Linked DNA regions of Homo sapiens: region 1 is linked to region 2. The links come from fine-mapping of genetic effects on gene expression. Tissue or cell type: hypothalamus. Region 2 holds a variant in brackets; the other region holds the start of a gene. All regions are shown on one strand. Distances are between the middles of the regions.

Region 1 (8,153 bases), 95 kb before region 2:
CAAGTCTTTACACAAATGGCACATCATTAGAGAGGTCTTCCCTAACGATTCTATTTAAAATTGTAACCCCCTCCATACCTGGGCACCCTCCCATTCCCTTTTCCTGTTTTACTTTTCTCCATACTATAAGCATTTTACTTATTTCTTTTGTTGATTGCCTGTCTTTCTTTTTCTTTCCTTCCCTCCCTCCCTCCTTCCCTTCCTTCCTTCCTTCTGTAGAGATGAGGTTTCACCATGTGGCCAGGTTGGTCCTGAGCTTAAGTGGTCCTCGCACCTCAGCCTGGCAAACTGCTGGGATTACAGGTGTGGGCCATCACGCCTGGCCTTACAGTAAATTCTTGATAAACAACCCAGCAACTGCCTCTTTCCTTTAAAAATTCACTTGTAGCTTCTACTGATCTGAGTATACCCAGGGCAACTTGAATCTACAATTGCAATCCTCAAACTTGGCCCAGATAAACTCTACTTATATTAATTTTGCCTCATCTTCCTTTTCGGTTATTTCATGCATGTTTCACTTTGTTCAACCTTTAATAGCTCAAACCAGAGTCTAAAGACAAAAAAAGTTACTGCACGATAGTAATTTTCATGTAGCTATTTTCATCTAGCTTGTATTTTTTTTTTTTTTTTTTTTTTACTATTTTTTGACTGACTTCGACTATTTTCACCTAGCTAGGATTTTTCAGAAGGGACATTCTTTAACTGTGTCTCACAATCCAATTTCCTCAGAGAAACTTCTTGGAGTTTCCCCAGCACAGCTGCTCATCATAGGCTTCATGGACAAAAGCCTCACTACTTATTAGAGTATCTTCTTCTGGGTCTTTTTATTTATGGCAGGTCTAATTTCTTGATGCTGCTGCACTAGTTCTAGAAGTCAAAGAAACAAAGTCAAAAGAGTTGTTTCTTGAGATAGAAGCTGAGATGGAGGTATGTATGGTTAGAAAGGGCTACTTAACCCCATCAAAGATTATTGTTATTGGAATTATGCCCTATCTCAATTGCCTATTTAACAAAGCAAATAATCTAGAATGGGCAAGACTTAAGACAATTATGATTGGTTACTAAGTGTTCACTTAACTTCCAAACTGGCATATCTTCTGAGTAGATGGATTCAGCACAACTTCAATTCTATGCTCCTGGGTTGCAATCCTCAAACTTGGACCAAATAAACTCTCTAGTTATATTAATTTTGCCTCAGCTTCTACCTTTTAGGTCAATAGTATTAAGCCTCTTCAAGTGGTCCTGAAGTATTAAGCCTCTTTAAGTGGTTACTGAAGCTGTATTCATCTTTTTTCTGTGTGTGTGTGTGTCATTTTGTATTGTTTCTGTTGCTATATCTTTGAATTTATTTACCTTTTTCTCTGCATTGCTTAATGCGCTAGCAATCCCATCCAAAGAAATTTTTATTTCAAATATTTTTCACCTCCATCCAGAAATTTGATTTTTCAAAAATCTTTCCAGTTTCTCTCCTATCATGTCTTCCTTTAAATCTTTGAGCATATTCATAACAGGTGTTTAAAATCCTTGTCTGTTAATTCCATCATTTTTATCATTTTGGGGTTTGTTTCTATGAACTTCGTGAGATATTTTCTTACCACTTGGTCTCTCTCTCTCTCTTTTGAGACAGAGTCTTACCCTGTCACCCAGGCTGGGTTGTGGTGGTGCAATCATAGGTCACTGCAGCCTCAAACTCCTGGGCTCAAGCAATCCTCCCGCCTCAGCATCCCCAAGTGCTGCGTGTCTTTCAATTTTTGACTGGATGTCTCACATTTTGAATTTAATGTTGTTGAATCCTGGATTTTACTGTAGTCTTTCAGAGAGTTTTAGAATTTGTTCTTACAGGTAATTAGGTTACTTACAGAGCAGTTTGATCCTTTCAGGGCTTGTTTTAAGGCTTTTGAAGAATCTACAGTAGTTTATGTTCTGGGTCCTGCAGTCTACGGTTATTATATCTCACTAAGGCATGACACTTTCGTAACCACCCAAAAGGTTCATCTTGCCTACTGCCTAGACAGAGTCGATTTATCAAGACAGGGGAATTGCAATAAAGAGCAATTCATGCAGAGCTGGCAGTGCAGGAGACCTGAGTTTTATTAATCAAATCAGTCTCCCTGAGCATTTGGGGATCAGAGTTTTTAAGGATAATTGGGTGGGTGAGAAGCCAGTGAGATGGGAGTGGTGACTGGTTGGGTAGGAGATGAAATCATAGGGAGTCGATGCTGTCCTCTTGCACTGAGTCAGTTCCTCCCGTGGGGGACACAAAATCAGATGAGCTAGTTTATCCAAGATCAGGTGAGTCAGTTTATCAATCTGGGAGGTGCCAGCTGATCCATCAAGTGCAGGGCCTGCAAAATATCTCAAGCACTGATCTTAGATTTTACAATAGTGATATTATCCCCAGGAGCAATTTGGAGAGGGTTAGAATCTTGTAGCCTTCAGCTGCATGAGTCCTAAATCATAATTTCTAATCTTTCGGCTAATTTACTAGTCCTACAAAAGCAGTCTAGTCTCAAGAAGAGGGTTTATTTTGAGAAAGGGCTATCACCTTTGTTTTAAACTATAAGCTATACACTAAGTTCCTCCCAGTGTTAGTTTGGCCTACGCCTAGGAATGAATAAGGATAGCCTGGAGGTTAAAAGCAAGATGGAGTTGGTTAGGTCTGATCTCTTTCACTGTCTCAATGATAATTTTGCAATGGCAGTTTCACATCTGAGGTTTCTATTGCGTGTTCCATGGTATTCAATAATCTCTTCACTCTGGTTGCTGGGAGCTCAAATGATTCCCAGTTCTGTGTGACCTCTCACCATTGTTTGGTGTACTGCTCCCCAGTAATTGTTCTTTCCTGGCCTTGTGGAGTTTCACGTTTTTTATTCAGTTAAAGATTCAAGGTACTCCTAAGCAGATTTCTGAAGCTCTTTTTCCATGTAATTCCCTCCTCTCCAGAATTCTGCCCTACAAATTCCAACCGACTTGGCCTACCCCAATTTCGTCAACTCCAATCTCTGTCTTTTCAACCCAGGAGATCCTAGGTTTCCATATGATTTCCTTTCATCGCACCACAGACTGGAAATCGCCTCTGGGCAAAAGGGCAGGATGATATACGGCTCCTTTTATTTCTTTTCTCTCAGGTAAAACAGTCCACAGCTGTCCGTTGTCCAATGTCTGAATAGGTGTCTCCTATATTTTGTTCCGTTTTCTAATTGTTTATAGTGGGACACTAAGTCCCGACCCATTTTCTTTTCTTGCCCAGAGTGGAAGTTTTAGGAAACTCCTTATGGAAAATGTGAATTGTTTTATTATTTTTTATGGTCGAAAACATCTTTCTCTATGATATCTTCCCACTCACCCTACTTTTTTCCTTCTCAGGAAACACTGACGGGAACACACGTGCCGGTGCTACCCTCCAGTGACTGGACTAGATCCTTGCGCAACTTCAACCCGCGCTAGCTCCGCCTACGGCCGGCCACGCCCCGTCTTCTCACCGGCGCGCCTCCCTCTTGTTCGTCCTCCCTCCCCCTGTGGACTGCGGCGCTGGCGTTCCGCGCACGCCGGCTCACTGCGCCTGCCCGGCGTGTGGACGCCACACGCTCCCGGAAGTGGGAGGTGGCCGCTGGAGTTTGTGTGGCCGCCGCCGCGGGAACGCGAGCCCGGTAATTTTTCAACGGAGAAAGGCGAGGCTTTCGGGCTCTGCAGAGTGAGAGTTAGCAAGTGTCCGGCTCCAGCAACTCTCCTCTGGCGTGACAGCCGGCATGGAGGATCCACAGAGTAAAGAGCCTGCCGGCGAGGCCGTGGCTCTCGCGCTGCTGGAGTCGCCGCGGCCGGAGGGCGGGGAGGAGCCGCCGCGTCCCAGTCCCGAGGTGAGGAGTCGACCCGCGCCTGGCTGTTGGCGCCAGCTGCCCCGTCCCCAAAGCGCCCTCGGCACCCCTTTCTTCTCAGGTGTCCCGCAGAAGGTGCAGCTGTGCGCCCTTGGACCCCAGCCTCTTCCTCGGTGCCCAGCTCCCTGGCTTTATCCTCGGGTGGGTGTCTTGGAGCCCCCTCAGGGCCGAATCACTCTCTGGGAGGGAGGAAATCGTCAAGACCAGTTCTGTCTACAGTGGGTTAACAGGTTCTAAGAGGGAGTTTTGCTTTAAACTTAATTCTGTGTTCACGGTTGCTGTTGTCACTCCATGTAGCCGTTATGGGTAGTTTGCAAGGCTTTATGTTTTTAAAATCTCACCATATACGCTAGGTATGTCACTTCATGCCTGTTTTTAAAAAAAGAAAAAATTTAAAAAGCACTCACCAGCATCCCTGTCTCTGTACCTGTTAAGTGGAGCTTCGTCTTAGCTGCTTTTGCTCATTAACTGGTGTCTCATATAACCATAGTATAAGATTGAATGAATCATTTTGACATCTCATCGGTTGAACTTAGTTACAGTGGCAAAGTTGTAGAACAGTCTTAAAACTTATTTAACGAATGTTAATTGTTGACTAGCGCTGCGGATTGTAAGTGATTGAATACTAAAATTGATCTTTTCCTAATAATAAACATGTTGAACACTTCGTAAAGCTTCATAAAGTGCGTATTTGCAAGAGGCCTCCTAACTCTTGCTCCTTCCGTCCACAGTCAGTTTCCATCTGGCAGCTAGAATGAGCTTTTCAATAACATGAATTTGGCTTATTCCCCTCCTGAGTCACTTCCATTTGCTGCTCTGCGGGGTCGGGTGCCTGCCTCCCTTGGTAATTGCATCTCACACAGTTTTTTCCCTTTTGTTCCCAGTGCCCCTCGCTGCCTTGTGTTCTTTGACATTGGAAAGAAGGTCTCGTTAAGGATCTCTGTATGTTCCTTTTGCCCTGTGTGCACTTCCTTTGGATCCTTGCAATTATCTTTCTCCTTCTAAGGTTGTTATTTCAAAGAGTACTTGCACATCCCTTCTCTTGTAAAGAACCACTCTTCCACCTGCCTCCCTCTTCAGCCTGAGATACGTTGTCAATCTCATCCTGTAAGTGGGTTTTAAAATAAATTTCGAAGTTTATTTTTAGTAAAAGAAGTGTGTTTGAATATGCTTCTTTATATTTGAAAGTCTTGACACTTTTACAGCTACTTAAGGCCTAGGTCTCTGTTCCAAATTGGCTTTAGTGACGGTAGTAATTGTTAAAAACTTACTGTTGCATGCTCTTTATAGTGATACTTTTTTTTTTTTTTTTTTTTTTTTTTACAAAAAGCCGGTCGTAGTTGCCCTCTCCCGTAGTCCCAGCTACTGGGGAGGCTCAGTGGGGAGGATCACCTGAGCCCATGGGTGGAGGCTGCAGTGAGCTGTGATCGTGCCACTGCACTCCAACCTGGGTGACAGAGTGAGACCCTGTCTCAAAAAATAATAGTAATGATACTTTTTTTTTTTTTTTTTTGGAGACGGAGTTTCGTTCTTGTTGCCCAGTCTGGAGTGCAATGGCATGGTCTCAGCTTACTGCAACCTCCCGCCTCCCGGATTCAAGTGATTCTCGTGCCTCAGCCTCCCTAGTAGCTGGGATTACAGGAACCCACCACCACGCTTGGCTAGTTTTTGTATTTTTAGTAGAGATGGGGTTTCACCATGTTGGCCATGCTGGTCTGGAACTCCTGACCTCAGGTGATCCGCCCACCTCGGCCTCCCAAAGTGCTGGGATTACAGGCAATGAGCCACTGCGCCTGGCCATGATACAGTGTTTTTCAATCTGGGCCAAAGTTTTTTGTTGAATTCAGGTGGTAAATTTCCATTATCTCTAATGCTAGTTGTCTTTGTAAACTAGTAGAAGCTATTGCATATTTATATTTTTAATAAGTAGGTTCAGATTTCATCAGAACTCTCCTTTTGGAAGAACGTCAATCAAGAAAAATTCTAAGTTTTTTTTCAGTGTGCAGATGCAGAGGTTTTCCTTTTCTTTTTTTAAAAGGTAGTACCTAGATTTTTGGCAGCAGAATAATAGCATTTCCAGAACATGTTTTCAAAATGTTCTCTATACAGAAAAAGTTTTATTTGACAAGCAGTTACTTTGTAGCTTACTGTTAAAATGTGTTTTCTTTTTTCTTGCAACAACAGATTGTGTTCCTTTAAAAAAATGCTAAAAATCAAGCTCCGGTACCCTTCCCAATAAGAAGAGGACAGCAATTATAGAATACCTGTCTTTTTGTAAAAGAAAATTTGTAACTCATCTTTAAGTTCAACAACAGTTTTTTTATGTTTTTTTTTTTTTTTTTTGAGAGGGAGTCTCTCTCTGTTGCCCAGGCTGGAGTGCAGCGGCTCAGTCTCGGCTCGCTGCAAGCTCCGCCTCACGGGTTCACGCCATTCTCCTGCCTCAGCCTCCTGAGTAGCTGGGACTACAGGCGCCCGCCCGGCTAATTTTTTGTATTTTTAGTAGAGACGGGGTTTCACCGTGGTCTCTATCTCCTGACCTCGTTATCCGCCCGCCTCGGCCTCCCAAAGTGCTGGGATTACAGGCGTGAGCCAACGCGCCCGGCCTCAACGACAGTTTTAAAGTAGTTTGCCACAAGATAGTAAACCTCTGTTTGGTATAGAAGATTTTCATGGCCACATCCCATAATGTAAAAGCTTCTCTTATTTGAGATAATATAAACCATACATCCACTTAATTGAATACGTGAATATTGCAAAATGTTACAGTTCTGTGATGGTGAATGTTTCTCTCCATATTGTGGAATCTATCACTTTTCTCATTATATGGTCCGTATTATATGTGACATGTGATAGGTGGATGTAGTTACTGGTACGGATGCTGATGCAAATGTAAGTATGTATTTCGTAAACTAATTTTGTCTTTCTGCAGATTAACAATACAAGTAGGGTTTTTAGTATTTTCTTTCTGCTCCTTGGCAGATTGATTTGAGCATCCTTCTTTGTGAACCATTAGTGTAGATTTGAAATTTGGGAGGAGACACTGCTTTCTGAGGATTGGACCTCGGCTGTCTCTAGAACTTCACTGAAGGAAGAGAACTAGAGCTGGACCTAGGAAAGGAAGCAAATTTTTCTTTATGGAAGTCATAATTTATAGCATCTATAGAAGAGGCCTAAGTGTTACTTGTGAATAATTTTTCTAGCTACAGTTTAGGATGAGAATTAACCAGTGAATCAGAAAGAGGATTTATCCAAAGAGAAAATCTGCTTAAATTAACTGAGACATCTGTTTTGGTAGACAAACTGTTACTTAATGTTGACCTAAATTTTAACCTGAAATTTACTAAATGATGACTAAAGATGAAGTTTCAAATTCAATGTAAATTTAAAGTCAAAAGATAATTTTTTGTAAAATTCTGGTCAAGCAGAGCAATATCTATTGTAAATCTAATATATTGTTGAAAGTGAATCATTGGTCAACTAGCAATACTTTTTTTTTCCTTAACATTGTTAACAAGGAACCTCAGTGTGGCTGTTCTTTAATTTATGGACAGTTCACACATTGGAACTGCTGACCTCTTCCTCAAAGGAAATGGGTGAGTCACTCTTGAGTACTCTGGCACCTTACCTAGCATTACATTTCCAGTAAATGTGTGTTGCATTAAATTGAGAGCTTAGAGTAAGAAATGGTTCCTGAACCATCAGGATCAGTTCTGAGTTAGGGACTGTGGCCTCTCTGTGATTATCCTTCCTTGATCTATAATTACAGTTTACGTGAGGACAATGTGGTACATTATAACTAAGGTAACAAGCTTTAATAGGGATAATTAGTACTAAATATTTTTCAAAATTATGGAACATAGCTAATATTTGTGATATTGCATGTGGAAAATAACTTACAAATGAATCTTTGGAACTTAACATATTAGTAATTTGAGACTGCCTGTGGAGAAAATAGAATTGAGTCATGTTTTTTCTTAACAGATTTTTATTTATGAAAAAATTCATAATTCTATAGTTCTTCTGGTTAGTGGACCTAAGTACAACTTTTGGAAAATGTAAGTTTTGAAATTAAATACATTTCCTTCTTTGAGTACTAGGAAGCTGTAAATTAGATTTGCGGTCCATTTTGTTTTTATGTTGGGCAATTTTTGTTAACTTTGTGAAATGAAGTCAGGTTAAAAAATTATCAGAAGTTATTACACATGTATAATGTAAAAGTTCATTTAAAAATGGGTTCATTTGTAAATATTAGCATATTGTTTGTGAAGGGCTTGTTGT
Region 2 (8,185 bases):
CTTTGCTGGAGAATATTATCAAATACAAATAGCAGACAAGGCATTGAGGACAATTGAAACATTAGCTACGGTGTTTCTTGACAAGCTCCAATTTCTAAAATAATAGCATATTACAATATGAGCATGAGAATCGTCGTGGACTCTCAGGACAAATCCAAGCAACCAGGAGAGTCTCCTCAAGGGGCAGAGGATCATGCCCTCATTCTCAGTGCAGACTTGGGCAGCATTCCAAAAGCCTCTCCAAGAGTTAAGCATTGATATTTGCCTCGCAATCCCTCTCTCTGCAATTGCTGCAAGGGCTGAGTCTCAAACTTTTCAATCCACGTACCTCTTTGATGAGGCAAAAACCCTCCCCACCATCTGCCCCACCTGTTTGCTCTGCGCACAGGGTAGAGAGATTGGCTCTGTTCCCTCTCCTTCTCTGTGTCCTGTGTGTTGATGGATGATGAGTTTCCAGCAACCCAACTGCTCAGAACAAAGACCACATCTCCTTTTCTCTCTTCTCTGTGTGCTAGTTGGGGAACATAAATGTGTTTCTCATTATTTGGTCTGTTTTACAATGTGAGTTCCTGCTGGAGTTCACTGCTTTGGGGATTACAAGGTATTTCATCTCCTGTAGGACGGGCCCTTCCCTAACACTTAACAATGGCAGCCTGTCTGAAGACAGGAAACCCTGAAGTGTTTTGCTAAATTTAAAGACTCAGACAAATATTAAGATTGGAGAGATTTTTCCTATTTTTTAAAAAAACGTAATCCTTTTATGTAGCTAGTATGTATATGTGTTACGGGGGTTGGGAGAGTCCTGAAATGGGTGGTAGGAAGGATCCAAAGATAATTAATTCTCAGCTTAAAAACCATTATGGCACAAAGGAAAGAGAATGGGCTTTGGAGCCAGAAGGTGGGATATGAATCCTGCCGTTTTCCTACTGGCAGTTGCAACAGCTTTACTTCCATCAGCTGCAAGATGAGGATTGTATAACCTGCTTTCTTAGGACTGGTGTGAAGACTAAATGAGATGCTGCATGAGAGCATCTGGCACGCTGTAGGGCTTCATGAGTGCTACCTCTTTGAAAACACTTTTAAATTTTAGATTCAGGGAGTACATGTGCAGGTTTGTTACATGGGTGTATTGGGTGATGCTGGGGTTCTGTTGAATAGATTGGGTTTGTATTAAACCCATCACCCAAATAGTGAACATGGTACCCAGTAGATATCTTTTCAGTCCTTCCCGTTCTCTCTACCTCTCCCTACTTGGAGTCCGTAGAGGGCTATCTCTTAATAAAACCTAATTCTGTAATGGTAAGGAGTTCAGCATTGCAAATTCAAATTGGCTACAGGATGCCCAAATCCATGGGACAGGTCTTTTGTTGTTGTTGTTTGTTTGTTTGTTTGTTTGTTTGTTTTTGAGATGGGGTCTCACTCTGAAACCCAGGCTGGAGTGCAGTAGCCTGATAATGGTTTACTGCAGCCTCAACTTCCTGGGCTCAAGCCTCCCTGCTTCAGGTGATCCTCCCACCTTAGACTCCTGAGTAGCTGGGACTACAGGCACATGCCACCATGCCGAGCTAATTTTTGTGTTTTTTGTAGAAATGGGGTTTCACCATGTTGCCCACGCTGGCCTTGAACTCCTGGGCTCAAGACATCTGCTTGCCTTGGAATCCCAAACTGTTAGGATTACACTGCGCTCGGCCAGGACAGATGTTTATATAATAGAAGTTTGCTCTGTGTTTAAGGATCATCTGTAGGGGTGGGTCGGGGGGCAAGGCACTTGGCCTTACTAGCCTCATTAAAGAAATGTTTCGGGAGCCCTCGCCGCCTAGCTGCAGGGCACTGGGTCATCTGGAATATAGAAATCATAATAATCCCCCTTGCGTCATAGGCTGACCTGAGGATCAAATGAGATAATGTCTGTGAAAGTACTTGATAAGCCTGAAGCACTGTCTAAATGTATTGCTGAGGGCCTGAGGTAGAGAGGACGTTTACTTTGGGCCATTCATGAGGTTCAAGTACAAACTCTCCATTGCATGGCATTCAGTGCAGAGCAAACACATTCTATTTGGCTTTAGCCTTGAATGAAAAGTCAACAGTGCCTTTTCAGTTGCTTTGCTTCCTCTCTTCTCCTTTCAAAACAAAGCCAGGTCCTCTAAGGGTTTCCTGCTGAGTTTATAAAGAGGTGCTGGATTACAAATCCAGCCCCGGCTCCCAGGATCTTGGAGGCTGGGGAAGAGTATGGCCTCAAAACAAGGGGTGTCTGAGGACACCTACCCTTGGTTCTTCATCAAGGGATTGGCCTTCTCTCAAGCCTTGAACCAGGGCCAAGTACCCCAGAAGCAATGCTTTCTTTCCCATGGAGGTAGTCACAGGAGAGGCACCATGAAAGAACTTGGACAACGTCACTGCTGGACTGTGAAAGGGCTCACTGTGAGGATGATCAGGAGGGAGGAGCGGTGGCTTGGGGCTGACCTCGGAAGTGTGGTCCAGCTGCCTGATGTTGATTGTACATTTCAGGCATGCTTTGAGAAGAGGCCTAAGTGATCCAAAGTCCCGTTCTATGAAATGAAATGTCCATCTCTTTACTTCTATTGCCATCTTTTTTTTTTTTTTTTTTTTTTTTTTCTTTTCAGACGGGATCTCACTCTGTCACCCAGGCTGGAATTGCATGATCATGGCTCACTGCAGCCTCAGACTTTTGGGCTCAAGCAATGCTCCCGCCTCAGCCTCCCAAAATGCTGGATTACAGGCGTGAGTCACTGTGCCCGGCCTCTGTTCCCACTTTCTGTCTGACTTTCTCCTGACATTCTTCTTTTCTTCAATCTCACGCACCCATCCTGCAGATCCTAAATATTGCCTTTATGATGGGAGTCAGGGCTCTTCACTCTCTAGACGAAGCCACCTTTCCTACCCAGGTCCCAAACGAACCCATTCCCTCTCTGCCTTTACTCTTCTAGCTCTCCCGCTTCCTCTGGAAGTCCCCCTTTCTTCTCTCTTCCCATTTACACCCCCTCCATCCTTCAGGACCCTTTGTGTGTGCCTCCCCATGAAGCCTTTTGTGACTATTCAATCCCCAGCGCTTTCTCCCCGCTTTCATATGCTACATATTTTTTATATTTTTTGTATTACTCTTTGGCTTTTCATGATTTTCTGTTTTTTATTCACTCATTAACAGTCGAGTGTTTTTGTGCTAGGCATTGCATTTGGTACTGGGGACCCAGTGGTAAACCAAACAAACAGGGCCTCTCTTCAGAAGTAATTTATCATTTAGGGCCAGGTGCGGTGGCTCACGCCTGTAATCCCAACACTTTGGGAGGCTGAGGCAGGTGGATCTCCTGAGTATCACAGGCTGAGTTCGAGACCAGCCTGGCCAACATGGTAAAAACCGGTCTCCACTAAAAATACAAAAATTAGCCAGACACGGTGGCGTGCGCCTGTAGTCCCAGCTACGCAGGAGGCTGAGGCTGGAGAATCACTTGAACCAGGGCGGCAGAAGTTGTAGTGAGCCAAGATTGTGCCACTGCACTCCAGCCTAGGTGACAGAATGACACTCTGTCAAAAAAAAAAAAAAAAAAGAGTAATTTATCATTTAGTAGGCAGTTAAGAGACTTTTTTAAAAGAAAGAAAAGAAGAAAGAAGAAAAGACATAAACAAGCACTATATACATCATAAAGAATGTGGATTTTATTCTGAAAGCAATAAAAGCCATTGCAGAAGTTTAAATTTTTGTTAATTAAAAAAAAATGCTTAACAACCCAAATGCCCGTCAATCAAATAGTGGATAAAGAAATTATGGTATATGTATATACACCATGGAATACTACTCAGTCATAAAAAGAAATGCAATAATGGCATTTGCAGCAACCTGAGTGGAATTGGAGACCATTATTCTAAGTGAAGTAACTCAGGAATGGAAAACCAAACATCGCATGTTCTCACTCCTAAGTGGGAGCTAAGCTATGAGGATGCAAAGACATGAGAATGATACAGTGGGCCGGGCACAGTGGCTCACACCTGTAATTCCAGCACTTTGGGAGGCTGGGGTGGGCTGATCACTTGAGGTCAGGAGTATGAGACCAGCCTGGCAAAAATGGTGAAACCCTGTCTCTACTAAAAATACAAATAATTGGCCGAGCGCAGTGGCTCACGCCTGTAATCCCAGCACTTTGGGAGGCTGAGGCGGGTGGATCACCTGAGGTCAGGAGTTTGAGACCAGCCTGGCCAACATGGTGAAACCCCATCTCTACTAAAAATACAAAAAATTAGTTGGGTGTGGTAGCTTGAGCTGTAATCTCAGCTACTTGGGAGGCCGAAGCAAGAATCGCTTGAACCCGGGACGCAGAGGTTGCAGTGAGCCGAAATGGCGCCTTTGCACTCCAGCCTGGGTGACAGAATAAGTGAGACTCCATCTCAACAACAATAACAAAAAGAAGGATACAGTGGGCTTTGGGGACTCCAGGCAATGGTTGGGAGGGAGGTGAGGGATAAAAAGACTACACCTTGGGTACAGTGTACACTGCTTGGGCAATGGGTGCACCAAAATCACAGAAGTCACCACAAAAGACCTTATTCATGTAACCAAATACCACCTGTTCCCCAAAAACCTATTGAAATAAAAAAAAAATTTTTAATAAAGAAATAGAAAAAAATGTTAAACAGCCTTATTGAGGTATAATTGACTTACAGCAAATTGCACATATTTCAAATATACAATTTGGTAAGTTTTTTGTTTGTTTGTTTGTTTCAGACAGGCTCTCACTGTCACTCAGACTGGAGTGCAGTGGTGCAAGCTCGGCTCACTGCAACCTCTGCCTCCCAAGCTCAAA[T/C]GATTCTCCTGCCTCAGCTTCCCGAGTAGCTGGGATTATAGGCGCCCCCCCACCACATCCGGCTAATTTTTGTATTTTTAGTAGAGACAGGGTTTCACCATTTTGGCCAGGCTGGTCTCGAACTCCTGACCTCAAATGATCCACCTGCCTCAGCCTCTCAAAGTGCTGGGATTACAGGCATGAGCCACCACACCCGGCCACAATTTGGTAAGTTTTAACATCTGTATATACCCATAAAACCATCACCAGGATATGATGAGCATATCCATCCAACCAACAAAGAGTTCTTGTGCTCTCTTCTTCCTTCTCCCCAAGTAAGATTTGAACTCCAATGCTACTGATTAGTTCAACTTTTTTCAGAATTTTGTATAAATCATCATACAGGGCCAGGCACAGTGGCTCATGCCTGTAATCCCAGCACTTAGGGAGCCAGGAGGTTTGCTTGAGCCCAGGAGTTCAAGACCAGCCTGGACAATATAGTGAGACTTTGTTTCTACAAAAAATAAAAAATTAGCCAGGTGTGGTGGTGCATGCCTGTGATCCCAACTACTCAGGAGACTGAGTTGGAAGAATCAGTTGAGCCTGGGAGGTCAAGGCAGCAGTGAGCTGTGACGGTATCATTGCAATCCAGCCTGGGCAATAGAGCGGGACACTCTCTCTCTCAAAAAAAAAAAAAAAAAGAAAGAAACAGAAACCCCAACCAAATAAATAAATAAGCATACACTATATACTCTTTTTCACGTGGCTTTTGTTCTCTTTACCACTGTAGAGCATTCCATTGTATGATACAGCAATTTATTTATCCTTTTACCTATCAATGGACCTTTGGGGTTGTTTCTACTTTTTGGTTATTACGAATAATGCCGCAGTCTTTGCTAACGGTATTGGTATTATGGACACATGCTTTCATTTCTTTTGGGCAGACAACTGTGAGTGGAATTGCTGAGTCATGTGGCAAACTACCAGTTCTGTTGAACCTCAGGGCCATCATTCTGTTCATGTCAGCTCGTTGTAGAACCACATCGATGAAGACCAAGATGGTAAAGATGAAAAATTGTAGCTAACATTTACTGCACATTTACTACAAGCCAAGCATTGCACTATGAAGTTTAAGTGCATTATTCATTAACCCCTTCAATAAAATTTGTAATTTTCATTTCAGAAGCAAATATTCGTGTTGTACAAATTTCTGATTGCCCTAAATGTAGAGAGACTGATGGGGAAAGTATGATGGGTTTGATTTTTATATCAAATCATCAGGCATGGAGAAATATCTTTTAGAAGTGTTAAAATAAATGTTCCTACTGTATATTTAAAATACAAAAAATGATAATAATAATAATAACAATTCCTCTGAAATAGTTACCGTGAATACCCTCATTTAAAATGAGGAAGCTAAGCCTTTTCAAAGTTAAGTAACTTGCCTAAGGTCTCTTAACAACTAGCGAAAAGGATAGAACTCAAACCTAGGTCTTTCTGACCCTGCAGTTTGTGTTTCTATCCACGGTGTAAGTGAATGAGTCAATGTATGCTAAAGTCAAGACTCTTATCTTCTGTTTTGCTTTCTTTCAGCATGGACAGAAGCACATTAACCTAGTCACAGGTGCCAGTGAGGGGCATTCTGATTAGCTGAGATGTTGGTTTCATTTTGCTTTACTGTTAGTCTAAGAATCTAAGGAAAATATAATGTGCAAGATACATTTGGCAATCATTTTATAGATTTTGTTAAAACTCCATAGGAATCCTTTATAAAGTTGTCTAATCTAAAATATATGACTATATTTAAGATGCATTTGTTTGCTTGGTTTAGATGGTAGTTTTTTTAAAGGGCCTCATCCATCAAAACACAATAAATGGGAATTGACTGTAGAATCCTGAGAATTTGTAATATTTGGAGGCATAATGACATAGCAGAAGAATATGAGTTTGCAGGTAAAAGAGACTTGGATTGAATATTCGGTCTGATGTTTCACAGTGGAAAAGCTATTGAAACCTCATTTTCTCGTTGGTAGAATGAAGATAGTAATGCCTATTTAAAGGGTGGTTGTAAGGATTAAAGAAGATGACAGACCCGTTACCCGGTGACACATTAGATTCTTGGTGAGGGTCAGGTCCTAGTTCATTTCTAGTCCCCCCCGCAACCTTTTTTTTTTTTTTTTTTTAAAGGGATCACACCTTTTTATCCTGGCTTAAAATCTAAATCCCTTCCTGCTAGGAGTTGGTGATCCTTCCCAAACTGTATGCAAAATTTAGTATGTTTGTACATGTTCATTTTGCGAGAAAATATCCCTGTGTATTAGTTCCTTTTCAAACTGTTATAAAGAACTACCTGAGACTGGGTAGTTTATGAAGAAAAGAGGTTTAATTGACTCACGGTTCCGCATGGCTGGGGTAGCCTCAGGAAACTTACATTTTTGGCAAAAGGAGAAGGGGAAGTGAGGCAGACGGCAAGATGCAGGGGAAGTGCCACACTTTTAAACCATCAGATCTCGTGAGAACTCACTTACTATCAGGAGAACAGCCTAGGGGAAACCACCCCCTTGATCCAATCACCTCCCACCAGGCCCCTCCCCATGGGGATTACAATTCGAGATGAGATTTGGGTGGGGACACAGAGCAAAATCATATCACCCTGGCTTCCATCAGATTTCAAAGAAATCCATGATTCAAAGGCAATTTAGAACCACTGGGAGATTGTTTTTCATTCATTCAACAGTATTTACTGAATATCCACTATGGGTCAAGCGTTTTGCTCAGATAAACCATGTCCCTGACTTTCAGGAAGGTACAGCCTAGACTGGTGAATAAAAGTATGACCTGTTTTGTGAATCTGTGTGTTATCACGCTATTATTAGGTTGGTGCAAAAGTAATTGCGGCTTTTGCCATTGAAAGTAATTACTTTTGCACCAACTTCATGCTTACTTGTATGGAGATGACACGTCAGAGAGAAAGGAGAGTACATGAAACAAAAAGCAGAAGAATCCAGACAGTTGAGTGGACATGAAAAAGAGGCCCTGTAAGCAAGGAACAGGCATCAAGAAAATAAACCTTCCTGACTTTGACTGACAGCCAGCTGCTATATTAAGGTGTAGGATTGTGTAGGTTCTGCCCCACGGAAGTGCCGGCCAAGGGTTGAGTGGAGAGGGTTGGGGTGGGGAGGTGACGAGATGCAGCTTGAGCTCCCTTCACCAAGCTGGGGGCCCTGAAGACTCTGCCTACCTGGATAGAGTAACTTTTTCTAATATGCTTCAAGGTGCTATAAGAGGCTGCCAGCCCAGTGTATTGCTGCTACACAGAGAGTCAGATTTTCCTTTAGGAGCTGAGCTGTTAAACTTGAAAGTAGATCAACTCTAGTTCTGAAAAAGAA

Which allele goes with the higher level. Positions count from the first base shown, and alleles are read on the strand shown. Sizes are in standard deviations (SD) of each study's normalised expression.
As copies of C replace T in region 2, the expression in hypothalamus of the gene that starts at base 3,583 in region 1 goes down (moderate effect, 0.63 SD a copy in GTEx).

The links. PIP is the estimated chance that this variant, and not a neighbour inherited with it, causes the effect.
Region 1: ERI1 starts here. The variant in region 2 is fine-mapped to the expression of ERI1 in hypothalamus (GTEx, PIP 0.97).

The regions. Positions count from the first base shown.
Region 1 is chr8:8,999,315-9,007,467 of GRCh38, forward strand. ERI1 (exoribonuclease 1) reads left to right here and starts at 3,583. Exons shown (of 7, transcript NM_153332.4): 1 at 3,583-3,857. The coding sequence starts at 3,750. LOC105379227 (a long non-coding RNA gene) reads right to left here and starts at 3,428. Exons shown (of 3, transcript XR_002956680.2): 1 at 3,347-3,428.
Region 2 is chr8:9,094,119-9,102,303 of GRCh38, forward strand. It overlaps a transcript of ERI1 not described here. Among named protein-coding and RNA genes, the nearest start is that of SNORD3I, 40 kb to the left of the region's middle. The variant T/C (reference allele first, on the strand shown) is at 4,818.